4 linked regions of the Homo sapiens genome follow. The protein of the gene in region 1 purifies or fractionates together with the protein of each later gene. This does not show direct contact. Each region holds a gene or a part of one and is shown in the gene's direction. Other genes may lie near its edges. The genes, in order: GALNT6, ATP2B2, ATP2B3 and NDUFS4.

Region 1 (7,025 bases):
CCAGAACTCTGCACAGAAAGTTCTGCAAGCATTCATCCTCTAGGGCATGGATCCACATGCCTGGGGGTGGAGCCTGGTGAACGCCCATGCCCAGCCCTGCCGGGAATGTCTTGTCATGAAATCTTAGGTTTCTGTTAAATTCTTTTTTATTAAATAGGAGTAGATTACAGATAACTTTTATTTATTTATTTTTAAAGACAGAATCTCTCTCTCGCCCATGCTGAAGAGCAATGGTGCGATTATAGCTCACTGCAGCCTTAACCTCCTGGGCTCCAGCAGTCCTCCTGCTTCAGCCTCCCAGGCAGCTAGGACTACAGGTGTGCACCACTACGCCTCGCTAATTTTTAAAATTTTTTATTGAGATGGGCTCTCAATACGTTGAGCAGACTGGTCTTGAACTCCTGGGCCCAAGCGATCCTCCCACCTCAGCCTCCCAAAGTGCTGGGATTACACCATGCTTGGCCAAGAAATATTTATAAAATACGTATAGGGTCTAAAGAATTACAGTCCACCAGCAGCCGCCATCCACTTTGAGAAAAAAACACTTTGAAGTCCCCCATTAACCATCTCTAATCCTGTACCGTTTTCTTCATCTTCAGAAACTGGTTATGTCATTTCTTTAGCTTTCTTTTTTTCGTGGGGAGACGGAGTCTTGCTCTGTTGCCCAGGCTGGAGTGCAGTGGCATGATCCTAGCCTACTGCAACCTCTGCCTCCCGGGTTCAAGTGACTCTCCTGCCTCAGCCTCCCAAGTAGCTGGGATTACAGGCATGCGCTACCACGCCCAGCTAATTTTTGTATTTTTAGTAGAGACAGGGTTTCACCATGTTGGCCAGGCTAGTCTTCTTTAGCTTTCTTTATAGCTTTATCACATATTTGTATTCAAGAACAAGATATTGTTTAATTTTAGCATGTTTTTACATTTTCTATAAGTGGAATCATACTGTATGTATCCTTTTGTCACTTGCTTTTTTCACCCAACAACACATCCACATTGTTGCATGGAGAAGTGGTTCATTCTTGGTCATCACTGTAGAGCACTGCACGGTATGGGTATTTTGCACTTTATTTATTCATTCTGCTAGTGGACTTAAAGGTTTTACCAGTTTGTTGCCATTTAAGTCAGTGTTGGCTTAAATGTTCTTGTACATACCTCTTGGTTTGCATCTACCAGAGTTTGTCTGGGATATAAAATGAGGAGTGGAATTGCTGGCTCAGGCTGTGTTCATTTCAAATTTTTCTTGATAATACCAAGTTGTTTCCCAAAGCCATAATGATTAAATCTCATGAGTTTAATGATTAAATCTCATGTAGTGTTTCAGTGTTCCAGTGACTCTAGATCCATGCATATTAGGATCTTAGGGCAGGAAAGAAACACTGCCTCCGGTCTCCTCATTTTATGGATGAAGGAAATGTAGATATGGGAAAGTTGTGGCCAATAAGGTGATGCCACCACTCAGCAACAGAGCCTGGCCTCGAACCCCAAGCACCCGACTCCCTCCTTACCCTGTGTTGGCTCACTTCTCTCTCTTGTCCCCTCCTTTCTCAGGCTGAGGCCCCAGCTTGTGGCCACCACAACGTATCAAGCTATCTCCAGGGTTGGGCTCAGGACTCAGAGCTGACGCAGCTGGGGTGCCCCTTGGTTCTGGAGGATGAGGCTCCTCCGCAGACGCCACATGCCCCTGCGCCTGGCCATGGTGGGCTGCGCCTTTGTGCTCTTCCTCTTCCTCCTGCATAGGGATGTGAGCAGCAGAGAGGAGGCCACAGAGAAGCCGTGGCTGAAGTCCCTGGTGAGCCGGAAGGATCACGTCCTGGACCTCATGCTGGAGGCCATGAACAACCTTAGAGATTCAATGCCCAAGCTCCAAATCAGGGCTCCAGAAGCCCAGCAGACTCTGTTCTCCATAAACCAGTCCTGCCTCCCTGGGTTCTATACCCCAGCTGAACTGAAGCCCTTCTGGGAACGGCCACCACAGGACCCCAATGCCCCTGGGGCAGATGGAAAAGCATTTCAGAAGAGCAAGTGGACCCCCCTGGAGACCCAGGAAAAGGAAGAAGGCTATAAGAAGCACTGTTTCAATGCCTTTGCCAGCGACCGGATCTCCCTGCAGAGGTCCCTGGGGCCAGACACCCGACCACCTGAGTAAGTAGCACCCAGAGTCCTTGTGGGGAGACCAGGGCTTTGCTAAAGGCATGGCTAGTATGGCCAGGGCCATAGATCAAGGGCCAGAGAAAGAGTTGAAGGGAATTTTATAATATGGGCAAGGATCTCCTCTATGCCTCACTTCTTTCCCAGAACAACTGTGCTGATCCCAGGGGTTGTGATTCAAGGGTATTATGGTCAGGCCAGAGGCCCAGGGAGACCTGTGAGAGTGAAATGCAATTATGAAAGTGAGATGATGTGGAAGAAGGAACTCAGCCTGGCACCAGGACCTGGCACGGGGTGACTGGGGAGACCTGATACCAAGCTGTGGTTTCAGTAGCTTTCTCCTCTACTGAGGCCTGCTCCAGAGACTGTGGGACTCTAATGCTGAGCTGTTTGGGGGGGGGGTGGGCATTTCTTAACAGCAACCCTGGTGGTTAGGAATATCCTCACACCTGGTTTCCTCCAGTGAAGGCCCACAAGGCCGGAATTGATTCCAACCTTTATCTGAAGTTGTTTATAGCCTCAATCTTGCACAATGAGATCTCACTTAGATCTTTGAGTGGCAGCCCCCTCCCTCTAACGCCCCCATGGCTGCATTCCCATGATCCTCAAGTTAAAGACAGTGTGTCTTCCCCACTTAGCCTTTGTCTTTTCCAGGTCAAGTGTTATACCCTATTTGGCCTTTTCTCAAATGGCAGCCCTCATCCCCAGATTTCGTGAGTCTTTAGGGCTGTGAACCTGAGGTTCTTGAGACTTGAGCCAAGTATGATAGCCCTAGAACAAGGGGCCACTTGAAGCTATCAGGAATTCCTCAGCAGAGAAGGGCACTGGGGCCAGGCACAGTGGCTCATGCCTATAATCCCAGCACTATGGAAGGCTGAGGTGGGTGGATCTCTTGAGGCCAGGAGTTCAAGACCAGCCTGGCCAACATGGTGAAAGCCTGTCTCTACTAAAAATACAAAAAAATTAGCCCGGCATGGTAGTGGGTGCCTGTAATCCCAGCTACTCAGAAGGCTGAAGGACAAGAATCGCTTGAACCTGGGAGGTGGAGGTTGCAGGGAGCTAAGATCATACCACTGCACTCCAGCCTGAGTGACAGAGCAAGACTCTGTCTCAAAAAAAACAGACAGAGAGAAGAGCACTGGGTGTGACAGCAGCCAGAGGAGGAAGACAGGGAATCTCTCTGGAGGGTCCCCAAGAAATCCTCTGACCAGCAGAGGAGGTCAAGGAAAGGGTGTGAGGTCACATGATTCCTTGAGATCCAGGATTCACACATTCCCACCCCAACCCTGAGATAGAGTGTCAAGAAGGTAGCAGCATGGCCAAGTGCCACAGAGTAGCTGGAGTGGATGAAGTTGGAAGAAAGGTTGCAGGAAATTGACTGTGATAGTGGTGTCAAATCACAGGGAGTTAATGAGAAAATGGATTAGAGAGGAACTGTACGCTGTAAAGGGAAGAGCCTTTTCTTCTCATTGAGTATGGAAATCATAGTCACTTTTCTCAGATGTCAAATTTGGCCTTTATTACCTACCCCTCTGGGACCTCTGGATTGGATTACATTTTATGCAGTTCACATATTACGGAGGAAGAGAGCCAGCCCTGGGAACTCCTAGCCTGAGAGCAGATAGCAGATGAAGGAAGGGGGTGGAGGAGCCTCAGCATCACAGCTGGGGCACTGAGCCAGCTCTGTGGGGATGGATTTTGGAGTGGTTTGGCTAGAACCTGTGCAAAGGCTCAGGGTGGGTGGCAGATACCGGGGAAGACAGGAACAGGGAACAGCTGTTCCCACCTGCTATAGAGAATGTAGGCTGTGGTTCAGAGGAGTGGAGGATGGTCTGGGGGAGTCTCTGGATGGGGCCCTCCCCACACCTGGTACTCCCAGGGACCAGGAGAACTTTGTCCGTACTTTCATACTTCCAGGTGTGTGGACCAGAAGTTCCGGCGCTGCCCCCCACTGGCCACCACCAGCGTGATCATTGTGTTCCACAACGAAGCCTGGTCCACACTGCTGCGAACAGTGTACAGCGTCCTACACACCACCCCTGCCATCTTGCTCAAGGAGATCATACTGGTGGATGATGCCAGCACAGAGGGTGAGGCTGGAGGGGCCCAGAGGAGGGGGCCGGGGTCTCCCCTGGGCACTCAAAGGAGGAGGGCAGTTCCTTTCAAGGGAGCAGGCACCACCTCATGAGCCTGTTGCCTGACATCACAGCTCATCTTAAAGGCCAGGAGCAGGAAGAAGTCAGGTAGGGGCAGGTAGACCATGCTTCCTTCACACCTCAGCCAAAGAGCTCCAAGAGCTTTTCAGCTCTGGCTTCAAGACTCCCTGAACGCTGCCAAGGCCAACCCTAACTCAGAAATGCTGGGAGAGACAGGGCAGAGGGTAGGGACAGGCCTTCACCTCTGTTTCCTACCCGCTGGGCCACTCTTCTGCTCTTGAAGACTCCCCAACCAGCCCTTTTTGCCATAGCTGTTGATAGGTAAGTGGGGTTGCTCACCAAACTTCCAGCCTTCAATTCCACAAACATCTACTGAGTACTGTGTGCCTGGCTCTGACCCAGGCAGAGGGGATGCCATGACAAAGGAGACAGACCCTGCCCTGAAAATACTAAAAACCCCCATAGGTCAGAAGCCTTTTTTTTTTTTTTTTTTTTGAGATGGAGTTTCGCTCTTGTTGCCCAGGCTGGAGTACAATGGTGTGATCTCAGCTCACCACAACCTCCGCCTCCCAGGTTCAAGCGATTCTCCTGCCTCAGCCTCCCTAGTAGCTGGGATTACAGGCATGTGCCACCACACCCAGCTAATTTTGTATTTTTAATAGAGATGGGGTTTCTCCATGTTGGTCAGGTTGGTCTCGAACTCCCGAACTCAGGTAATCTGCCTGCTCCAGCCTCCCAAAGTGCTGGGATTACAGGCATGAGCCACCGTGCCCGGCCAGAAGCCTCTTACAACACTAGCCACAGTGCTGTGGCAGTGATGCACCTGTAACAGGTGTGAAAGGGCATGGACTGCAGAGTCCAACACCTAGGAATTCAAATCCCAGCTCTGACCCTTCCTAGCTCTGTGACCTTGGACAAGCATTTGGCCTCCCTGAACCTGTTTCCTCTTCAAAAAATGGGGGCAGACCGGGCACAGTGGCTCAAGCCTGTAATTTCAGCACTTTGGGAGGCTGAAGCGGACAGATCACTTGAGGTCAGGAGTTTGAGACCAGCCTGGCCAACATGGTGAAACCCCATCTCTACCCAAAATACAAAAAATAATTAGCCAGGTGTGGTGGTGCGCGCTTGTAGTCCCAGCTGCTCGGGAGGCTGAGGCACAAGAATCACCTGAACCCGGGAGGCGTAGGCTGCAGTGAGCCAAGATGGCACCACTGCTTTTCTGCCTGAGAGACAGAGTGAGACTCCTTCTCAAAAAAACAAAACAAAAAAAAGGACTGGGCGTGGTGGCTCACGCCTGTAATCCTAGCACTCTGGGAGGCCGAGGCAGGCAGATTGCTTAAGGTCAGGAGTTCGAGACAGCCCGGCCAATATGGTGAAACCCCGTATCTACTAAAAATACAAAAATTAGCCAGGCGTGGCAGAGCATGCCTGTAGTCCCAACTACTCGGGAGGCTGAGGCAGGAGAATCGCTTGAACCCAGGAGGCGGAGGTTGCAGTGAGCCGAGATCATGTTACTGCACTCCAGCCTGGGCTACAGAGTGAGACTCCATCTCAAAAAAAAAAAAAAAGAGCAGTTGAGTCCCTTACATGGTGGGTGAGGGATATGAGATAGGTCATAAATGAGATTCATGTGCCACAGAGTGGCTGGCATCAAGTAAGAGTGTCACAAGCATGCATTCCATTTTATTCATGGTACGAGAACAATGCACCATGGAGTATGTAGCCAGGAGGTGCCATTTCTGCCTGGCGTGGCTAGGGCTGGTCTGCAGTGGAAGCCAGATTGGAGCTGGGCCTTAAAGGATGAGTGTCTAAGAGAGAAGAGTGGATGAAGGGCATTCCCACAAGAGAATGGCATAAGCACAGTCCTAAAGACATGAATGTGTTTGTTAAAGAGATCTGGTGTGGCTGAAGCTTAGGTTTGTTTAGGAAATGAGACTTAAAAGATGTTAAATTGGCCAGGGACAGTGGCTCACCCCTGTAATCCCAGCACTTAGGGAGGCCGAGGCGGGTGGATCACTTGAGCCCAGGAGTTCAAGACAGCCTGGGCAACATGTCAAGACCTTTTTTCTATAAAAATTACAAAAATTAGCCTGGCATGACGGCATGTGCCTGTAGTCCCAGCTACTCGGGAGGCTGAGCCAGAGCATGACCCTGTCTCAAAAAAAAAAATGTTGAATTGACATTCATGTCATGCTAAAAGCATTTATTTAGAAAGTAAGAAGGAGTCGTTGAAAGTGTTTCATCTGTACTGTGACTTCATTTCAGAAGGATGGCAGCTTTGGAGGAGGATAATCGGCAGGAAGAGAGGCAGAGGACTCACAGTCTGGAGAGGAAGTTCTTACACTCACTTGAGAGTAGGAGATGATGGGGCCTGAACTAGGAAAGGCTGTGGGACTGAGACACCTTTAGGCTGAGAGTCTCCACAAGCTTAGCCCTCCTCGTAGGAGGCATGTGGTGTCTGGGGCTCTCCCAGATTGACCTCCTGTGCTCAAACTCCCAATAGTGAGGGCAGGAACTGACTCCACACTTCCCAGTGTAAGCGCTGGGGCCACTCCAGTAGAGCTGCTTCCTGTCCTTGTCCTCCCCCAGCCTCCCTCCTTCCTCTAGGTTAGGGGTGATGCTGAAAAGAGGACTAGGGCTGTGGAAGGAAGGGCTGAGTGTGAGCCCTGTTGAGTTCATTTCTTCAGGAAGCTCACATCTTCCCAGGGAAGACAGATACTTG
Region 2 (7,025 bases), on another chromosome or scaffold:
CTGGGACCGTTTATAAAAAGGAAACTGTGGCCCAGCCAGGCACAGGGACTTGTCCAAGGTCACACCGTGTTCTGTAGAGACCTGGGCTTCTTGCAAGTGCTCTCAGGCCCCAGACAAGAAGCAGCAGAGGCCTGTGTTGGCCCCTGGTTTTCCCCAGGTGTTTGACTGTGGGTGGAAAGTATGAGAGCCCTGGGCCCAGCCCTGCTCCTGACCAGCTGTGTGATCTTGGCCAAGTCACTTCCTCTCTCTGCCCTCAATCTTCTCATCTGTGGCCAGGCAGGCCTATCTCTGCCCTGTTTTATGCCACAGCTGCCAGAGAGCCCTGGACACTGTAGAGGGCTGTGCACGAAGGTGTGATTGGCATCAGGATCAGGAGCCGGAGCAGGTGAGCACCTTGCTGCTGCAACTGGCCAACTCTGAGATCAGAAAGGGAAAAAAGGAAAGAAATCTCTAGTTTGCAGATCGGAGGTCAGAAAAGCTGCCTGTGGCTTATGCTATGTGCAGAGCCTGAAACACTGGCCCATCCGCCTGCTGTCCCACTGCCCTCCTCTGCCTTCCCCCTGCCCAGCCACAGGTATGGGTCAGGAAACCCATTAATGCATTAATTAACCTAAAGATCACCTGATGGGGGCAGATTTCTGGGCCCTACCTTGATGAATCAGGAGGTCCCAGGGGCTACATTTCCACAGGTACCCCTGGGTTTTCACCCATTTCACTCCGCACCCTGGGGAGCTGAGGTGCTTAAGAGTGGGCTTGGTGGAGCACATAGGCGCTCAGAGCTGGGGGTGGCCTAGACACCATGCTGTTCTGCCTGTACCTGTCACACGTGGGGAAACTGAGGTCTCCAGCCTAGTGGGTGACTGAATGAGACTGAAACTCATTTCCTCTCCCCACCAGTCCCCTACCAACCCCTAGCCCCTGGCTTCACCCTGCACAGCTAAATCAGGCCCTCCTGAGGACCGATGAACCCTCAAATCCAAAACAAGGCCATCTTCTCAGCAGACAGCTGGGAGCCATGCTCCAAGGGCACTCTCCAAGACCCCATCTCTACAAAAAATTTAAAAATTAGCAGGGTGTGGTGGCATACTCCTGTCGTCCCAGCTATGCAGGAGGCTGAGGTGGGAGGATCGCTTGAGTCCGGGAGGTCAAGGCTGCAGTGAGCCGTGATTGTGCCACTGCACTCCAGCCTGGATGACAGAGCGAGACCCTGTCTCAAAAAAAAAAAAAAACCGTTTAAAAAATGGGTTATGCTATGGAAAACTCCTGGGACCTCCTGCTGGGCAGTGTGGCTTCGGCTTCACCCCGGTCTTCACTTGACAGTCTGGATGGAGGCGGCGGGAGGCAGGGGGAAGCGGGAGTGACGGTAAAAGCCTTAGAAGTGTCATTCACAGTCTAGGAAATCTCTGCAGGGTCAGAGAGTTCCAGATATGTGGCCAGAGACCACGGCTGGCAGGACCAGGAGGGCAAGTGACCAGGCCCGAGCAGGGGCCACAGCTCAGGTTCCTAAAGAAACAGAGGTCCCTGGGTATGGGGGAGAGTGTGTTGGTCTGAGGGTCAGGAGAGCTGGGTCCCAGGCCGGCTCATCACTGGCGAGTGACCTTGGAAAAGCTGTGTAAGCCCTCTGGTCCCAAGCTCTCCCCTTGTGAGAGGGGTCAGTGATCCTGCCCCCCAGTGTCCTTGGTGAGGGCAGCTTCTCCTGCCCACTGCCCCTTGGGGTGAAGGGTCAGAAACACTGCAAGTCTCAGGAAGTAGCAAGGAGAGCAACTGCAGGGACAGCCCGTTGTGTTTGTTTTCTGTGGCTGCCATAACAAATGACCACAGGCTAGGTGGCTTCAAACAACAGACGTGTATTGTCTCCCACTTCTGGAAGCCAGAAGTCTAGAGTCAGGAGCCAGCAGGGTTGGCTTTTCCTGGAGAGGCTGAGGAAGAGCCTGTCCCTTGTCTCCCTAGCTACGGGCAGTGGCCAGCAACCCTTGCTCTTCCTCACCTTGTGGCTGCGTCACACCCATCTCTGCTTTCATCTTCACCTCACTCCTTCCTGTGTGTCTCTCGGTGTCCTCTCCTCTGCTTCTAAAGACATTGGTCATTGGATTTAGGGCCCAACCTAGACCCAAGATGATTTCATCTCAAAATCCTTAGCTAATTCCATCTGCAAAGATCCTATTTCCAAACAAGGTCACATTCTGAGGTTCCAGGTGGGCATGAACTTTGGATAGGACACCGTTCAACCCACTGCAGTCACTAAGATTTATGAGGTGTTTATTGCTCATAAGACCTGCACACAGTCTTATCTCTTCTTCACCATCACCCATTTTCCGGATTACAGAAACCAGGGCCCAGAGACATTAAGAATGTGCCCAAGTCAGGCCAGGCGCAGTGGCTCATACCTGTAATCCAAGCACTTTGGGACGCCAAGACAGGTGGATCACCTGAGGTCAGGAGTTCGAGACCAGCCTGGCCAACATGGCAAAACCCCGTTTCTACTAAAAATACAAAAAAAGTTAGCCGGGCCTGGTGGTGCATGCCTGTAATCCAGCTACTCAGGAGGCTGAGACAGGAGAATCATTTGATCCTGGGAGGTGGAGGTTGCAGTGAGCCAAGATGGAACCATTGCACTCTAGCCTGGGTGACAGAGTGAGACTCTATCTCAAAAAAAAAAAAAAAAAAAAAAGAATGTGCCCAAGTCACACAGCAAGTGAGGGGCAGAGCTGGGATTTGAACCCAGGTCCCTGGTGCTCCTTCACCTTTCCACCTTTTTGTAGCTGGCTGGGGGATGCCCAGAGACCCCTTAGGGCCCACAGCTAGGAATCCATGGGGCAGGAATTCCAGCCAGCCCTATGAAGACCCCAGGTCTGCAGGGGCTCCTGGGCACCAGAGAGAGGCTGGAGACAGGCAGGGGAGCTTCAAGGTGTGAAGGGGCCCAGCCGTGGTCCCAGGAGACCAACATGTGGCAGAGGATTGAGAGCCACAGTTCCTTGTCTCTGCCACTGACTCTGTGAACGTCATTGTGCTCTTCCGGAGAATAGGGGCAGCAGCACTGACTTTATGGGGTAATTGCCAAGTACCGAAATGTTCATCATAATAGTACTAATCGCTAAAATGTGTCCGCAAGCACTTTACAAATGCTTTTTGTTTTCCCATGTAATGCGTGGGAGGGGAATTGCTTATTCAGTCATGTGCGTTCGGTTGTGTGTGGTTGAACCAGTGACTTCGCCTCAGTTTGCTCCTCCGTAAACCAAGGGTTAGCTGAGCACCCATCTTCCCGGTTGTCACGTGAGGCAAACAGGATCCAAGTACAGGGCTTGGCCCGGGTGTGGTCCAGGTAGAGGCTCAGCGGATGTTTTCTTGCCTGTAAGATGGGATAGTGGTAGTATTATGATGATGCTATTATTTGTTGTATGAGGATTTGGTGAAGTAATGCAAAGGAAGCACTTGGCTCAGGGCCTCGCCAGAAATTGATGGAAAGTGGCCTCCTTTGTGGCATCAGAAAGATTTGAGTATAAATCCTAATGCCAGTGTTTACTACTGTGTGACCTTGGGCAGGTAGCTTTGCTTCTCTGAGCTTGACATCCTGATATGCAAAGTGGAGTGGGAAAAACCTGCCTCACAAGATTGTGCCACGAGATGATGGGTAGGTAATGTCTCAAATGGAACCCTCATCATGCCAGGCATTCGAAATATGTTGAGCTTCTGCCCTGCTTGTGGGCATCTTAAAGATGTCCCCAGAAGGGGCACATCCTAGTCCAAGGAGGGTGGATTTGATTTGGGAAAATTGGGAGCAGTCGTGCCATAGTGGAGCATATGGGATTGGTGGAGCCTATGGGAGAAGCAGTGAATGGATGACACCGTTTGGGGTCCAAGCACCATGTAGCTTTGAAGGAAGAAAGCAGGTCTCTGCAAGCTTCTGTGCTGCCTCTGAAGGCAGTTTCCTATAAAGTGGTGCCTTTCCTGTGCCGGCTGGGCTACTCTACCGGGCCATGTCTGGCTGCCCCGGGACCATTTTGTGGGAGCCATGGGGGCGTCATCTGGATGAACTCATTCTAGCCCAGCTCTGTCAAACACCTGCCTTGCAGGCCCAAGGGAGCTGTGGAGGCAGTGGGCGGGGAATGCTGTGGCAGCCATTTGGGGTGCCTCCTGCATGCCTGAGGCATCCACGCTGAGTGAGGCCCCCAGGCTCATCCGGAGCAGAGGGTGCTGGCCTCCAGCTCACTGATCCTTCTGAAGTTTTTTGATCTGTGCCCATGGGCAGGGCACGCCATCCTACGTGGGCCTGACTTAGCGTTGATGTAGCGCAGTAGTTGAGGACAACATCTGGGCCCAGGCTGCTTGGGGTCACATCCAATGCCTGGCCGCTGACCAGCTGCATGTCCTTAATCTCCAAGCCTCCGTTCCCTCCACTGTCAAATGGAGATGACAACACTGCCTGCCTCATCAGGCCGTTGTGTCGGAGACTGAACTGTGCGGATTCCAAGATATACATTTTGACATTTCTGAAGCCAGGTTGTGCCTGACAACTGGTGTTACACCACAGTGGAACCAGCCATGCCTTTTATTTCTTAAATATACGTAAAGTAGTGATACAGGTTAGAGTCAAGAAAATATGATAAATAAGATCAGTTTTATAAGGGGCTCAGAACAGAGCCACCAGGCTGGTGGGAAGAAGCCAGGATTGCCACCTGCCTCCCCAGCTCAGTTGCGGTGAGTCCCTCACTGGGTCCTTTGTGTCCACTCTGAAACAATCAGCAAAAGAACACCTGCTTGCCGGAGCAGCTGTGAGAAGTCGGCAAACTTTTGTGTGTATTACGTGACCAGCAGAGTCCCCATATGCAGTAGGTGCTTAATAAATGGCCGTGCAAAACAAACAGCAAAGACCGTAGTACAAGGAGGAATTTAAAGCATAGACTCTGGGATTCTAATTCCTGCTCCACCATTTCCATGCTGTGTGACCCAGCACAAGTTTCTTAATTTCTCTGTGCCTTAGTCCCACCATCTGTAAAATGGGGATAACAAAAGTGTCCAATTCATAGGATTGTTGTGAGGATTAAGTAAAATTAAAGTGCTTAGGACAGCCCTTGGCAGAAGTGTAAGCAATTATTATTTGATGAACTTTAATGAGTCTCTTCTAGTTCAATAAATGATACTAAAATAAACACTAGGCTCAATAAAATAATAGCAGTTGAGGCTGCACTTGCTTTATAGCTGAGAAAACCAAGGGCCAAGAGGCATGCTGGTTTGCCCAGGATCACACAGCCAGCTCCCAGCAGACTGGAACCACAGCCCAATGTCCAGGCACCAGCCCAATGCTGCCTCTTTGCCCATGTTGGTTCAGGACTCTTTCTCTTATGGAGAAAGCAGTTCTTGCCATGGAGAGGAGGGTTTCTAGAAGAAGCCACCAGCAGATACATCACCAGTGCTTCAGGGATCCACAGGGTAATTAGGGCCCTCATTAGAAGTCGTTTCTGTCTTCCCTCAATTTTCTGCCTGACCACCACAAACAGTGGAAGGGGCCTAACTGGGATGCCCACCCTGCCCACAGCTGCCCAAGGTCAGCAGAGCCTGCCAACCATCCTGCAAGCCCACCAGCCAGCACTCTCCTGGCCTCCAAGTGGCTTCTGCAGAGTTGACACAGCAAAATTCCCTCCTGGAGACAGCAAAAGCCGTGGCTGGCCCGTTGGTCCAGCCACCAGACAGGCTAGGGCCACAAAGTGGATTGGAGTTGGGGGGAGGACAAAGACCTGGGTGCAGCCAGCCATGACAAGCACTTCAAGTGACCTTGGACAAGTCACAGTCTCTTTCTGAGCATCAGTTTCCCATCTTTGAAACAAGCCTTTTGGAGCCAGATGGGCCCCCTGAGACTTTAAATGTCTAAAATTCGAAGCTGCCTGGACATTGCTGATGTCCAGGTCACGGGGGAAGGGGCGGGGTTGGAGGGGTGGAGCTAGTGTCTGCGTGTGGAGTGCAATGTGTGTGGATCTTGGGTTGGACTCACTAGGAGCAAGCATGAGACAGCGCTCAGGAGAAAGGGGCTGAAAGGAAACAAGGTAGGGAGAGAAAGAGATAAACAAGCGTGTGGCCTCAGCTGATCCCTTGGGGGATGTGGGGCATGAACTGCGCCCCAGGTTTGGCTCTGCCTTGAAGCAAAAAAGCTGGCCTTTCATACCCCATATCAGATAGTTATTGGCCACGGCTGCCTTCTGAGTGGGATGCTGTGTGCAATTGCCCGGGCAGGAGCTCCTGTTCTTCCCAGGGCAAGCCTGCAAAGAAGGGGCAGCCGGGAGCTCTAGCTCCCAGCAGCTGGGGTGTGGAAGCTGCAGACCGGTAAGGAGGACTAGGGTGGGCACCAACAGTGTCCACTCTGTTATGTGGATTTGGGATGCAAAGGTTGCTGGGTGCCAGTCTCTTCCTAGCAACTATCTGAAGGCAGCAGATTAAGAGCTCTTTAGGCCACTTCTAAATTTATCAACTTACATGACTCACTTCAGATTAAAATGAAGCCCTTCTCCCCATCCCACCCCCAGCCAATTTCAGATTTCTGAGCTCAGAGCATCCTGAAGAGGGCATAGAATGCAAATCAATAAAACCAGTATTAGCTAAGTATTTGGTGTGGACCAGGCTGTTTGTCGGGCTCCTTGCTGAGCTCAGAGATGAATCAGCTCCAGAAACAACTCCTGCTGGGAGGCGGAGGCAGCCCCAGGTAGAAGGTGGTATACGACTGCGGGTGCCCTGCCTGGGGGCTAGGCCATGAATAACTTCCAGGACCAAGACTCAGCCTCACCACCACAGTATTTAGAGCTTCCAGAGCCTCAGTTTCCTTATCTACAAAATGGGGTCAGTGTGGTGAAGAGTATGTGGCCTGGGCCACTCCTGCACTCAGGGAGTAGCAATAAAATTAAGCGAGACCTGGCACTGGGACCCAGGGCTGTTTCTAGGCACTTCTCTGCCCTCTCAGAGGCCTGAGTCTGCCCCATGACCTCAGGGGAAGGAAATTCTGAGCTGAGTGGAGACATCAGCTTCCCTGGCCCTGG
Region 3 (7,025 bases), on another chromosome or scaffold:
ATTGCGGCTGAGGCCCAGAGAGGCTAGGTAACTTGCCCAAGGTCACACAGCCAGTAGGTAGCAAATCCAGGGCTGGAATGTAGTCCATCAGGCTCCGGAGTCTGGTCTGTGCTTGTAGCCATTAGTTCCTGTATCTCCAGAAGTGTGTGCGGAAGTCAGCAGAGTAGAGTGTGGTTCGTGTGAACTCACTGTCTCGGGTACTCCCAGCCTTGTGGGCTGAAGCCGGGGATTCTTGGGAAGACCTTGCAGCTCAGAAGCTGAGCCACCTGCACCTCTGCCCCGTCTACCCACTGAGAGAAATGGACAACAGGTGGATTTATATCAGTCTCCAGCAACTCAGGGACCGGTTTAGCTCTGCATTCATGGCCCCTTCAGGGCACCCGGAAGCACTGGCAGTGCACGTAAATGGCAGCTGATAGATGGGGACCTGTGCCATGGTACTGAAGGCAAACACTTCCCTCTAAGCCTCTTGCTGTGACTTTGCAGCAAGCTCCCCAGCAACGCCCCGGGCTGGGTATGCCAGGCAGAGACCTGGAGCATGCACAGGGCTCCTCCCTTCCCCACCCTGGCTAAGCTGGCAGAAGCCAGGCCAAGCAGCGCCTGGCTGGAAAGCCCTCCCCTGCCTGGGCTCCTTCTGTTGGGTGGGCGGTGCTGGCAGTGGGCCTGGGAGCCTGCGGAGAAGGATCAGAGCCACGCGTCACTGGGGCAGAGGGAAGCAGGCTCTCAAATGCAGGGGAATTCGGGCATCCTGGACTGCCCAAGGTTGGGAAGGAGACAAGTCCAAGGTCACATGGCTGAGTAGGTGGCAGGACTTGAATCAGAGCAACAAGGCAAGGGTGGAAATGCCAATGGTTGGGGAATCTTGGGACTGGCAGGACTCTTTTAGAGCACGAGGAGGTTTCCGGAGTCTTGGTTCCAAATCAAAGTTGTACAAAGCGAGTATGTCCGTGTCCTTGAAGAGCACCTTATTTAAAGGGGTCCTGAGCCAGCCTCTCTTGTTCTGTAGGTGGGTCTCTCAGTAAGCGAGCAACCATTTTATTCCAGTGAGAAGTTCTCCCCTGAGGCCACAGGCTCAAGGCACTTTCTCCAGCTGCACTGTCCAAGCAGCGATTTTATTAGAATGCACTTCCTCAGGTGCACCAGCCACATTTCAAGGGCTCAGGAGCCACCCAAGGCTGGTGGCTACCGTCACAGACAGTGCAGAGAGAGAACATTTCCATCACTCCCGAATGCTCTGTCACACAGAGCTGCTCTACAGGAAATGGAAACCCAAGTCCTCACACGGACCCTGAAGCCACCTCCCACACCCACTCCCTGGTGGCACAAGGCCACTAATGCAGCAGCTTGGGCTCCCCCAGAGAACCATCCTGAAGAGAAGCCCCAAAGAGGGCTGACTGCTCACAGAAATTTGAAGAGGTGTTCTGTGGTGGGACAGGCTCCAGTCTGAGAGCTTAACAGGTAGGGACAGAAAGTGCCAGGCTGGGCTTGAACGGGTCGTTCCTCAGAATGGATGAGTGCATTCTATTGTCAGAATGGCGCCAGCTATGCCAGGGGGCCACATCTTATTGATGTGATGGGCATGAGGGACACTGCCCTGGTTCACTGTGTGCCAGGCTCTGTGTTTGCTTCAGGGGAGACGACGGAAAGCAAAAAGCAAACGCAATGCCCTTCCTGCCCTCCTGGAGCCTTTGTGCTTTGCTCAGTGTTCACCAAAGTAAGAGTGCAAACCTGGCTGGGGCCGGGAGGATGGACTGAGGCCACGAGGCCAGCCGGTATCTCCCAGGGCTCGGGTCCACAACCTGAGTCCCCGCCCATCCTGCCCTGACCCCGCCTCCTCAGGTAGCCACACATGGCTGGTGGCTACCATATGGGACAGTGCAGAGACTCCGGGATGTACTGTCACACAGAGCTGCTTTGGAGCAAATGGAGACCCGAGTCCTCACACGGACCTAGACACCCCCCACCAAGCCCACTGCCCCATGCCTCCTTGGAAGGCAGTGGCCAAGCATGTACTCTCCAGGGGCTGCGCAGATACCTAGACAAACACAGACCAGGGAGGAGGGAAAGGGCCTCTGTCCCAGCAGCTCACCGTGCTGTGGGGGATGCCCAGACCTCGCCTCGTGCTGACTCCAGTGGTCCTAGCACACCCAGCATGGGGCAAAAACCAGATCCGGCCACCGCCTGGTCCTTATTAGGCCCCACCATATGCCCAGCGCACTGCCTGTGCTCAGGAAACAGCAGGGAGGAGACGTGGGTTTTTTTTTTTTTAATTGATTTCTTCCTATTTAAAAACAATACTCTTAATATGCTCTCTATAGGAAACGTATAAAACACAGAGAAGTCGAAAATGTAGTAAAGCCATCCTATCATGCAAATGTAAATCCAACATCTCCATTTGATTCATTTCACATTGCTGTCATTATACCATGGGCTCAATTGTGTAATCTGTTTTTTACTTCACATAAGCATTTTCTTTATTAATATAATCCCTTCCTAAATGAATGGTTTTTTTCAAAATGGTTATAGTTTAATTTTTTAAGATTATAAAAGCAGTAAGTGCTTATTGCAAAAAGAAAGAATGATCTTGAACCATGCAAAGAAGAAATTTGATCATTCAACAGTTATTTACCAAGCACCCGGGATGTATCAGGCGGCCTTCAGTAATTACAATTTTTAATGGCTGAATAATATTCTCCCAAGAGATTGTAATTCGCTTAATTATTTGGCTATTTTTGGAAACCCAGGCAGTCAGATTTATTTTGCTCTTATGCGTGAGCTCTGCTGAGGAGCCTCTGTCCTGAGGAGAGGGCCCAGGCAGAGGTATCTTCTGCCAAATTGTTCTCCAAAAGGGCTTTTTCATCGCACTGCATGGTGTCGCTCACTGCAACCTTGCCAGCATTAGATATTTTAATCAAACAAATTGTCATAAGTATCTAGGTCAAAAATATGTACTTTACTTTATATGTCTTTAATTGCTGATGAGGGGGCACGTTTTTCCTCATGTTTATAAGTTGTCTTTTCCTTGTGAATTATCTGTTCCTCCCTTCATTTTTTTTTTTTTTTTTTTTTTTCCCTGAGACAGTCTCGCTCTGTCACCCAGGCTGGAGTGCAGTGGCGCGATCTCAGCTCACTGCAACCTCCACCTCCAGGGTTCGAGCCATTCTCCTGCCTCAGCCTCCCGAGTAGCTGGGATTACAGGGGCCCGCCACCACACCCGGCTAATTTTTGTATTTTTAATAGACCCGGGGTTTTACCATGTTGGCCAGGCTGGTCTCAAACACCTCACCTCAGGTGATCCACCCACCTCGGCCTCCCAAAGTGCTGGAATGAAAGGCGTTTATTGAAGTCTTAGTGTTTCTTCTGTGGGCTTGAATAAACTGTATGCATGAAAAAACAGTGACAATTTAACAGATTTGTTGCAAATAATTTTTAAGACCTTTGTTCTTTGCCATTTTTTTTTTTCATGCAAAAGGTAAACACTTTGTTGCTCACAATTATTTGTGATTTCTTCCATTGTTTCTAGGCTTAGAAAATCCCTTTCGGAAATTTGAGAGCTGTTCATTTCTGAGTTTTCCATGTGTCTTCGTGTGTGTGTGTCTGTGTGTGTGTGTGTGTGTGTATTGGGGTGGTGTAGTTGCATTTTTAAGATACTTAACTCTTTAATTTAGGGATTAGCAAGCTTTTTCTGCAAAAGGCCAGATGGTAAATAGATTTCCAGTTTGCAGGCCACATAGTCTCTGTCCCGACTACTCAACTCTGCATGGTAGCCTGCAAGTAGCCACAGACAATGCGAAATGAGGGGGTGAGGCTGTGTCCCAATAAAACTTTATTCACAAGAACACTGGGCTGCCAGATTTGGCACTTAAGCTGTAATTTGCCAAACCTGTTGAATCCAAATGAGATGTGTCTTAGGGGATAGTTTGAGGTGAGGATCTAAGGTGCATCCTTTGCAGATTGCTAACCAGTTGTCCCCATCTCTAGTAGCAAATCGGTTGTTCCCTGGCTCATTTGCACGCACTGACACTGGTCTGCAGTCAGACCTGGTGCTGGCTGCCTGTCCTGACCCACGGGCCCATCTGTGTGCTGCTGTACCGGTGATGTGCTTTTGCCTCTTGTACCTGGTATCATTTAATACCTGACCTGCCGGCCCCACCTCAGCAATCCTAAAGCTTGCTTCTCTGTCCAGTGGACTTCAGAACCACTTTGTCAAGACCCCCTTCCTCCCTCCCCGCCAAGATAAAGCACTGGGTGATACATTCTCTGGACATCCTCAGAGTTCCGAAGCCGCAGATGAGTCCGGTCCCCATGGGGTGGGGTGGCGGCTGGCTCTGTGCAGATGCTGTGGATTTGACTCTCCGCAGATGGGAGGCGGGTGTGGGCAGTACAGCGCCATCCTGAGTGAAGGCCCCCAGCTGAGGATAGCCAGACGGCCCTGGGAACGCCACAGCCTCCTGACTGAGAAACACGAAAACAAAGCCGGCAGTACAAGAGAGCGCGGGAGATTGGGAAGCCACTGTGGGCCGGCAGAAGATGACCTCAAATGACAGGACTTAGGCCTTTCTGCTGCTCTTTTGGAAATCACTGTCCTGACACTCAGAATTCCCTGCACTCCGGCGTTTCAAATCAAACCCTGAACCGGGTTAAGGCGCATGGAGTGGCCGGTTCGAAACTGAACCTACATTCCCACAGATTGCGGGCCAGGGGTGTGATGGTGGCACAGGGCGTGACCAAATGGGAAGGGGCCCTTTCTCCAGGTTGGACCAGCCCGGCAGTAACCGCTTGGCTCCCTCAAAGAGCAGCAGGAGCAGGAGAGTGTGTCCAGCCCCAATTCTCGGGCAGAGCAAGGGCTCACCAGGCACAAGGGTCCATTCCGCCCCCCACCATGGGCCTCAGCTCCATTTCTCCTGGAAGCATCCAGGACCAGACACTGCCACATCTTGGCTTGGAGCCACAGGCCCAGGAGAGATGGGCTCAGGAGCAGCTGGTCCTGGCTCCTCTGGCTCCTGGGGTCTCTGGGTACCTTCCTGTAGTCAGAGGGCGGCTGCCAGCAGATGGTCCCACGTCTGGTGCAGGAGAAGAGGGAGGGCTGTGGACGGGTAGGGCACGTCTCCCACCTAGTCTCATCTCTCCCTCCTGGCCTGTGGTTCATCTGCCCACAACACTGTGACCAGCAGCTAGGCTTGGAAACCTCTGTCCTGGGGAGTGGAGCAAGAGTCCCCCCTTGTAACCCATCCATGGGGCCAGAGGGTAAGAATGCGCTGACCTGGGGGCCACTGCCCCAGACGCCTGCCCTGGTAGCCCCTAGGGAGGCACTCGTGGCTGTGTCTGTAGGTGGGATGGGGTGGGTCAGGGCTCCCAGGCCACCGCCTGGCCCTCTGCGCCCCATCCACCCTTCCCCGAAGGAGGAAGCTGGGCTATAGCACAATCGTGGGAGGGGGTATCTGAGATGGAGACGGGCAGGGTTGGGGTCTCCCCTAAGGGAGGAGGGGAGGGGGTGAGCACACAGAGCAGAAATCCACCCCTTCAGGTCCTGTCCCCAGCCCAGCTGTGCTCTCCCGGTGCCTTCCCAGTGGGGAGAGCAGGCATCTGTCCATGAGCACAGAGGGGGCGGGAGGAATGGTGCTGATGACAGATGATGATAAGAGGGTCAGGAACTGGAGGAGCAGCTGGTGGTGGGAGGGTAGGGGGAGCTGATGGGCTGTGGGGCGCACTGAGGGAGAGACTCGGAGCCCTGTGTTGGTGTTGGGTCCCGGCCTGAGAGGGGGCCTCTGCCTCTGCACTCCCTTCAGGCACTCCTGGAGCACGGCAGGAACTTGGTGGTGCTTCCTCTGGGCTTTGCTGGAAAAGCTTTGGGCTCGTATGCCGGGTTCCTCGCTCAGAAATAGTGTCTTAGGCAAAATTCAAAAATGAACCAGCAATGCTCAGTTCACGCGATTCAGACAGCAGCCAAGCCCTTGATGACCTTCGCGTCCTGCAGCCTCGGCTGCAGCTTCTGAGGTACCCTCTCTCTGGGCATCCTCGCCACTGGCTCTTCCTCCATCACCACATTTGGCAGCAGGCATCCTGCCCCCTCAGCTGGGGAGAGTGGCACGGATACTTCGGTGTGCTCGTTCCTTGGGTCTAGATCACAGAAGGGCAGGCTTGACTCCCATCTTCAGTTGGAGCCCCCATTTGGAGGTCTGCCTCCCAGATCCTTTTATTGGCCTCTGACCTTGACACCAATGCATCCCCCCAGCCTGTACTCCCAAGGACTTTGGCCTGCTTCCAGAAACCAGGATGCCCTCTCTACTGCCCCTGCCAGGATTCCTAATGGGGCCCCATGGGACTCGTTCCCTAGGAGGACACGTGTATGTGTCCTGGTAGCTCCTTATTTAGTCACTGCCTGTCCAAGCTGGAAGGACTTAGCCCAGGGCCCACAGCCCCATGGCCTCCAGCTGCCTGTAATTTCCTTAATTACCTATTTAGGCCCCGACGGCTTCCGGTCCTCAGAGCTGGCTCTGAGATTGGAAGCGGGCTGGGACGGGCACCGAGGTACCACAGCAGAGCCGGGCCGACTTGGGGCACCTCTCCTCCCATCCACGTGCTCTCTGGCTATGAAGGGCTGGGAGGACAGGGACCCGGCTTCCCATTGGACCCCAAACACGAGGTCTCCGTCCCTTTGTAGGCTAGAGTCTTTCACGCTGGCCACAGCCACAGCGTTTCTAGGTCCCCATGCCGTCCCTGCCTTCGGGGCTGCTGGGCAGGCCCGGGCTGGCAGGAGGGGCGTGGGGAGCACGTAGGGGCAGGGTAGTGGCTGGCCAGGCTCACGCTGCTATGCAGCTCGCACACCCGCTGTAATTGGATAATTAGTGTCATTATGCTTCCTGCTCCCTCGCTCTCTCCTTCTGCAGCTCTTGCCTTCTCTGGCAGGAAACAAATGACTGTCCCCCAACCCTCAGTGTAGACTTCTGGCCCCAATCACAAAGGGGCTTCCAACCTCCCCGTGGGATCCAGGGACACCCAGCATTGTGAGGGCCGCCTGTGTG
Region 4 (7,025 bases), on another chromosome or scaffold:
CTGATAAAAATTTATCTCATATTGTTATCAAGCTGTATGTAAAAGACAACACAATAAAAAAGACAAAAATCTCACCAAACTGTTTTACTTAACCAGAGTTAGAAATAAGGTTTATTGATAAAAACCAGGATTAGAAATAAAGTTTATTGATTTTCATTTTCAGGATATCTCTTTTTCTTTCAGGAAACTTATACAGAAAAACAGAATAAATGGCTTGTACGCTTATAATTACCTTGACCAGTAATGGTAATTAATAATCACAATCACAACCCTCAGAGTTTATCCTTTGGGCTGAGAATTAAGAATGATACTTTACAAACCTGGAAATGTGAGCAGGCCAATTAACAAAACAAATAGATGGACAAAAATAAAGGCAAACCCATGAGGCAAAGAATGTTTTTAAGTTTGTCAAAAATGAATATTAAACAGCAGAGTGAGTAAAATTACCATTTATTTTCTAATGATTACACATTAGTCATTGTTTCTACATGAACACTTACTACTGAGAACACTGTTTTACTGGGTACATTGCCCAGTAAAATATGATTATTAATATTTTGGCTGTTTTTGCTTTTGGCTATTTGAAAAATGCTGCTATAAACATTGGTGTACAAATATTTATTTGAGTCTTCACTTTTAGTTCTTTTAGGTATATACTCAGTAATGGAATTGTTGGATCATAGGATAATTCTGTTTACTTTTTGAGAAACTGCCATACCATTTTCCATAGTGGTAGTACCATTTTACATTCCCATAAGGGTACCAATTTCTATACGTTTCTGTTAATACTTATTTTCTGTTTTTATATACTAAAATGTTGTAAAAGGGTGTAAAATGCTACCTCATTGTGTTTTGATTTGCATTGCTCTAATTAGTTCTGTTGAGCATCATTTCATGTGCTCATTAGCCATTTGTATATCTTTTTTGGATAAATGTTTATTTAGGTGTTTTCCCCATTTCTAATTGGGTTGTTTTGTTGCTGTTTGAGTTCTTCTTTTAAAATTTAGAAATGACCCCCTACTTACTTGTACAAGTTCTTTTACCTCTTTTAGATGTTGATTCCTTACTGTTCTATTTTGTATTATTTTCTTCTTGTCTGTCTTACACTTCACTTACAGTATATTTAGTTTTGATGTTTTTGGTTTTATGTAATAGCTTCTGTCATTTTTTCCTTTATGCTTTCTAGGCTTTATATCTTTTTTTCTTAACAAGGTTTTTGTACTCTTAATATTTTCCTTCCATCTACCATTTCACTGATGTGACATTCCTTACAGGCTAATCAACAAACAGATATTTACTGTATAATTCATGTGTAGTCTAAAATTTACTATAGATTATACTTTGTAGGTATAATTTTTATTTATTTATTTATTTTATTATTATTTTTTGAGACGGAGTTTCATTCTTTGTTGCCCAGGCTGGAGTGCAATGGCACGATCTCAGCTCACTGCAGCCTCCACCTCCCGGGTTCAAGTGATTCTCCTATCTCAGCCTCCCGAGTAGCTGGGGTTACAGGCATGCACCACCACGCCCAGCTAATTTTGTATTTTTAGTGGAGACTGGGTTTCTCCACGTTGGTCAGGTTGGTCTGGAACTCCTGAACTTAGGTGATCCGCCATCCTCGGCCTCCCAAAGTGCTGGGATTACAGGTGTGAGCCGGCCCGCCCGGCCTATTTTTATTTTTTGTTTATTCATTTTTTGAGACAGTGTCTCACTTTGTTGCCCAGGCTGGAGTGCAGTGGTGCGATCTCGGCTCATTGCAACCTCTGCCTCCAGGTTCAAGAGATTCTCCTGCCTCAACCTCCTGAGTAGCTGGGACTACAGGCATGCCCCACCAAGCCCAGCTAATTTTTGTATTTTTAGTAGAGGTGGGGTTTTGTCATGTTGGCCAGACTGGTCTCGAACTCCTGACCTCAGGTGATCCACCCACCTCAGCTTCCTGAAGTGCTGGGATTACAGGCGTGAGCCACTGCGCCCAGCCCGGTAGGTATAATTTATTAAATGCTGTGTTCATAATTGACTGTGGACCTTCGTTGCTACCTTAACTGTCCAGAATTGGAGAAAAACTTTTCTCCACATCTGATATTTGAGTCCTTTAATAATTGTTTTCTGCTTAGAGGGTAGTTTCTTATCACATGATATAACTTACACAAGCACACGTTTTAATTTAGGCAAATTTTTCTGAAATAATTATTGTTTTACATAAAAATTAAAATCACTCTTTGCAATCTAACCTATCTTAAATTTTTTTACAAAAAATTTTTACTGTAACTTTATGGTAGGATTGTTTTACTTAACATTTTTGTCCTTTTTATTGTATTATCTTTTACATACAGCTTGATATAAATTTTTATCAGTGCGTTTGTTTATAATAAATTTTTTTTTTTTTTTTTTTGAGACGGAGTCTTGCTCTGTCGCCCAGGCTGGAGTGCAGTGGCGCGATCTCAGCTCACTGCAAGCTCCGCCTCCCAGGTTCACGCCATTCTCCTGCCTCAGCCTCCGAGTAGCTGCGACTACAGGGGCCCGCTGCTACGCCCGGCTAATTTTTTGTATTTTTAGTAGAGACGGGGTTTCACCGTGTTAGCCAGGATGGTATCCATCTCCTGACCTTGTGATCCGCCCGCCTCAGCCTCCCAAAGTGCTGGGATTATAGGCATGAGCCACCGCGCCCGGCTACACATGTTTACAAAAGATGTTATATAACTTTATTATTACAATTAGTTGGAGGTTAACCTAAAATTATTAAAATAAACCTATCCTTAAAGTAAATTATATATGGTTTTATAAATTAAGAACTTTACTTTGGATTACAACTAATATATACTAAGATTTTCTTAAACAATTAGGACATAATCGTTTTAAGTTAAATCCCCTTTGTAGTAAAAAATTGCACAAAATGGGTACAGAGTTTTAATCTACCTAATAATTTGCACTGTTTTCATCTAACAGGTCTCTTCATTTGAGAAAATATAGTGTAGCTTTTCACGGTTTTAGTTACCCACGGTCAGCTGTGGTCCAAAAATATGCAGTGGAAAATTCCCAAAACAAACAATTTATGAATTTAATATTTGCTCCATTCTGAGTAGTGTGATGAAATCTCATGCCGTCCAGCTCTGTCTCACCCAGGATGTGAATCATCCCTTTGTCTAGTGTATCCAGGTTGTATAGGATACCTGCGTTAGTCAGAACTTAGTAGCCATCTTGGTGATAAGATTGACCGTCTCAGTATTGCAGTGCTTGTGTTCAAGTAACCTTTATTTTACTTAATTGATCTGTTTTATTATTAGTTATTGTTAATTTATTACTGCCTAATTTGTAAAGTAAACTTTATCATAGGTGTGTATGTATTAGAAAAAACAGTGTATGTAGGGTTCAGTTCTATTAACAATTTTAGGCATCCACTGGGCGTCTTAAAATGTATCGTACAAGGATGAGGGGGAGCTACTTACTGCATTTAGAAAATGTGATAACATTTTCTGATATTTCAGATTCTCATGAGTTCACTTATCATTACCCAATGTTTTTCTTGTAATATGTGGATTTGTTTAAAAGTATTTAAATTTTTTAATTGCCATGTTACTGACCTTAATGATTTCCAAAATAAAATAGGTATTAAGAGTTGCTTAATTATACTTCTTTAATATAACAACCAGGACATGTATTTTAACTTTGTGTAAATCATCTAGAGTTATTTCCATGTTAGTACATTTTGTGTAGGTATATTTCTGAGTGGGGCATTTACAGTGATAAAGAATTACATAATACCTTAAATTTGGTAAATAATTGACAGATATTTTAAAGTATATTCATAAAGCAGTAAAACCTCTTGTATTATGTTATCTTTAAATTATAATTAAGAAGGTTTTCTATATGGCTGTGTACACATTATCAAAATTGAACTTTTAGCACAAAAAGTTCAACTATTTGTATCAGTTATTTTTGTCAATTATTGGTTATTATGTTGCATTAAAACTATGGTAGTGAATATATTGTATTAAAAAAAAGAAAGGACCAAATGCCATATATTTGGGGTGGAAATTTGAGCCACAGTTGTGTATACTTACTTTTGCAATAGAAATCTATGTCAGATAGCCTAATAGTTTGGAAAACTCTTAAGATGCTAAAATGTCACAGCACAGTCAGGGATATGTATGACATTCAGTAGTATAAACAACAAAGTGTACATGAAACGTCCGTTAACGTTAAGTAATTGGAGTGAGAGTAGGAAAATGCTAATATAAAGGGGCTAGATTCTCTGCCCATTTTACGTCTAACTTAATATTTTCATTTTAACTAATTTTATTTCTCCCATTTTGTGAATGGGCTACAGGACTAAACTAATAACATTAGTTATACAAATCATTCCTATGTAAAATACTTTTGGTGTGAAATTAGAGTGAATAAACTTTTTATTATGATTGGGATTTTTTTCTTTTCGTTTCTGATGCCATCCGTTTAAGAATCAGTGTTCCAGAACAATTGGTATAGCTTTGCATGTTTCTGGCTGGTCGTGACAAATCAGCCACTGTACACTCATAGACAGCAGTACAGTACTTGTCACTGGTGGCCTTTCTGTGACAGAGAGCCTGAAGACTGACGTAAAGCGCAGCCTGTTGTGAACTGTCAAGTGAGTCTGCCAAAAACTCAGCAGACAGAACTAATTGCAGAGAAAAAGGACTTTTGTGCCCTCTTCTCTTTCTTTCCTTTCCTTTTTTTTTTTTTTTAATAAGACAGATATTGTTAAAGTAGCTTGTTTATGTAAGATTTGTCTGTCTCTCCTCTCATTGCCTGGATCCTTTTTTAACTTAAAGTCTTGCACTGCAGGTCGTTGAGGACTTCCACATGGAGATTGGCACAGGACCAGACTCAAGACACACAACTCATAACAGTTGATGAAAAATTGGTAAGGATTTTCTACTACACACTGCTATGGTTCTGCCTTCAGGGTTATTTTTGTACTATAGATATTCAGTATGGTGTTCCAGGTTTTCAGGAAAGTGATTTGAATTTGAATTTCTAGATTATACCTAAATTTTAAGAAGAAATATTTGTCATCAAAAGATAATTTATATTAAGCATTATAAACAAATACAAAACCATATGCAAATATTAATAAATTAAAATTATGAAAGGTTTTCATTTTTGTGGTGTTTATAACTAGCAGAACATTCATTACTTTTTGTAATGAATGTTTTGCTTTTTATTTTCTCAGTTACACTCCTATTTAAGTTGTGAGATACTTGCTAGTACTATCTAAAACTAAATATATTAGGTTTTCTTGGAAGCATGCAACATTTATTATCACTATATGTATATATGTATATGCATACAAACACATACACACACATTTTATTTCTTCATATGTATGAAGAAATAACTAGCAAGCAACTAGCAAACAACTAGCAAGACCAGCAACAAATGAGTAATAATGTTTTGTGAATCAGTAACAAACAGAATTTTGGCAGCCATCACTTATAAAATATTTTAGAGTGTGGTCTGTTACTTTACATGCAACTTTATATTTATGCTTCAATAGCATACATTTTGTAATGTTTCCAAAACTTCTGATAGAAATGAGTAATTGTATATGTGTGCTTTTCATTTTATATCTGGTTTACCATTATCAGTGTTTCTTAACTACCCCCTTTATTATTGTACAGTATTTTATCACTCAACTTTGAGCCTGTAAGCCCAATCTAAGTAATAGGTCACACTTAAATTTCTATTTGCACCATTAAAGATACAGACAAATAAATGTATAAGTAAATAGAGACAGTTTGGAAAATTCACATCTTGTGCTGACTGGTTTTATTTTAAAATTATCTCTTCAGTTTACCTACTGACATTGTCATCATCCTGATCTAGGTTACATCATCTTTCACCTAGATTTCTACAGTAGTCTTTGACCTGATCTCCCTAGACTCTTTAATCCTAATCTGATTAATTTTCCTTAGGATGCCAAAATAGTCTTTGAAATGCTGGTATTGTCACCCTCTTTTCGTCCTTTGGTGCTTCCTGTTGCCCTTAGAGTAAACACTAAAATCCTAACATGGTCTTTGACGTCTTGCCTGATTTAGCTCCTGCCTTCCTCTCTAGGTTTATCTTGTACCACTGTGTTTTACATTCTGTGGTCTAGCCACACCAAGCCTGGAACTTGCTACTCTTTTTCCTGCTTCAAGGCATTTGGAGTTCCTGTTCACTCTACCTGGATGCATTTTAACTAATCCTGAGGACTTCATCCGGTCACCATCTACCTATTCTTCAAATGGTAATCAAACACCACTTGCTTAGTCAAGTATAAAAGAAATGAGGGGCAGGGCATGGTGGCTCATGCCTGTAATCCCAGCACTTTGGGAGGCTGAGGCGGGTGGATCACGAGGTCAGGAGTTCGTGACCAGCTTGACCAACATGGTGATACCCCGTCTCTACTAAAAATACAAAAAATTAGCTGGGCGTGGTGGCGGGTGCCTGTAATCTCAGCTACTCAGGAGGCTGAGGCAGGAGAATCGCTTGAACCTGGGAGGTGGAGGTTGCAGGGAGCCGAGATCGCACCATTACTCTCCAGCCTGGGCAACAAGAGTGAAACTCAGTCTGAAAAACAAAACAAAAGAAATGAGGCAGTTATGTGTGTATGAAGTGAGGATGATTTTCACATCCTGTGTGTTCATTAATGAGAGCACTATTATTTTAATTTTTCCTATGAGCATCTTTTTTTAACTCTCAGGAGGTTGCCTTTTCTATAAAGTTTTCAAATTTTAGAGTTCACTAATAACTCTTCTAAGTTCTCTTCTTTCTAGTTTGAAGAATGAGTGAGTCAGCCAGTAATACATTGCCCTAAACAGAGTGCTATGAAGCATACAAGAGAGGTAGACAGACTGGATTGGTTTGGTATTTTTAATTATATGTCATAAAATCGGTTGCATACTGTTGAATTTTCTTGCCCTACCTAGATTTTCCCCAGCTTTGTTATACCTTTCTTGAAGTAATAGTTGTCCCTCAGTACCTGTAAGGGGATTGGTTCTAGG

Evidence for each region.
Region 2: the proteins of GALNT6 (region 1) and ATP2B2 purify together in Homo sapiens (affinity purification with mass spectrometry; 2 studies listed by BioGRID and IntAct, with this or other methods). This does not show direct contact.
Region 3: the proteins of GALNT6 (region 1) and ATP2B3 purify together in Homo sapiens (affinity purification with mass spectrometry; 2 studies listed by BioGRID and IntAct, with this or other methods). This does not show direct contact.
Region 4: the proteins of GALNT6 (region 1) and NDUFS4 purify together in Homo sapiens (affinity purification with mass spectrometry; 2 studies listed by BioGRID and IntAct, with this or other methods). This does not show direct contact.

Annotation. Positions count from the first base shown.
Region 1 is NC_000012.12:51,374,407-51,381,431, reverse strand, and holds part of GALNT6 (polypeptide N-acetylgalactosaminyltransferase 6), read left to right. Parts: intron 1-1,547; 5' UTR 1,548-1,650; coding exon 1,651-2,141; intron 2,142-4,064; coding exon 4,065-4,237; intron 4,238-7,025. UniProt on the Homo sapiens protein: Catalyzes the initial reaction in O-linked oligosaccharide biosynthesis, the transfer of an N-acetyl-D-galactosamine residue to a serine or threonine residue on the protein receptor. May participate in synthesis of oncofetal fibronectin.
Region 2 is NC_000003.12:10,495,578-10,502,602, reverse strand, and holds part of ATP2B2 (plasma membrane calcium-transporting ATPase 2), read left to right. Parts: intron 1-7,025. UniProt on the Homo sapiens protein: ATP-driven Ca(2+) ion pump involved in the maintenance of basal intracellular Ca(2+) levels in specialized cells of cerebellar circuit and vestibular and cochlear systems.
Region 3 is NC_000023.11:153,520,641-153,527,665, forward strand, and holds part of ATP2B3 (plasma membrane calcium-transporting ATPase 3), read left to right. Parts: intron 1-7,025. UniProt on the Homo sapiens protein: ATP-driven Ca(2+) ion pump involved in the maintenance of basal intracellular Ca(2+) levels at the presynaptic terminals. Uses ATP as an energy source to transport cytosolic Ca(2+) ions across the plasma membrane to the extracellular compartment.
Region 4 is NC_000005.10:53,598,628-53,605,652, forward strand, and holds part of NDUFS4 (NADH dehydrogenase [ubiquinone] iron-sulfur protein 4, mitochondrial isoform 1 precursor), read left to right. Parts: intron 1-4,824; coding exon 4,825-4,903; intron 4,904-6,096; exon of another isoform or gene 6,097-6,268; intron 6,269-7,025. UniProt on the Homo sapiens protein: Accessory subunit of the mitochondrial membrane respiratory chain NADH dehydrogenase (Complex I), that is believed not to be involved in catalysis. Complex I functions in the transfer of electrons from NADH to the respiratory chain.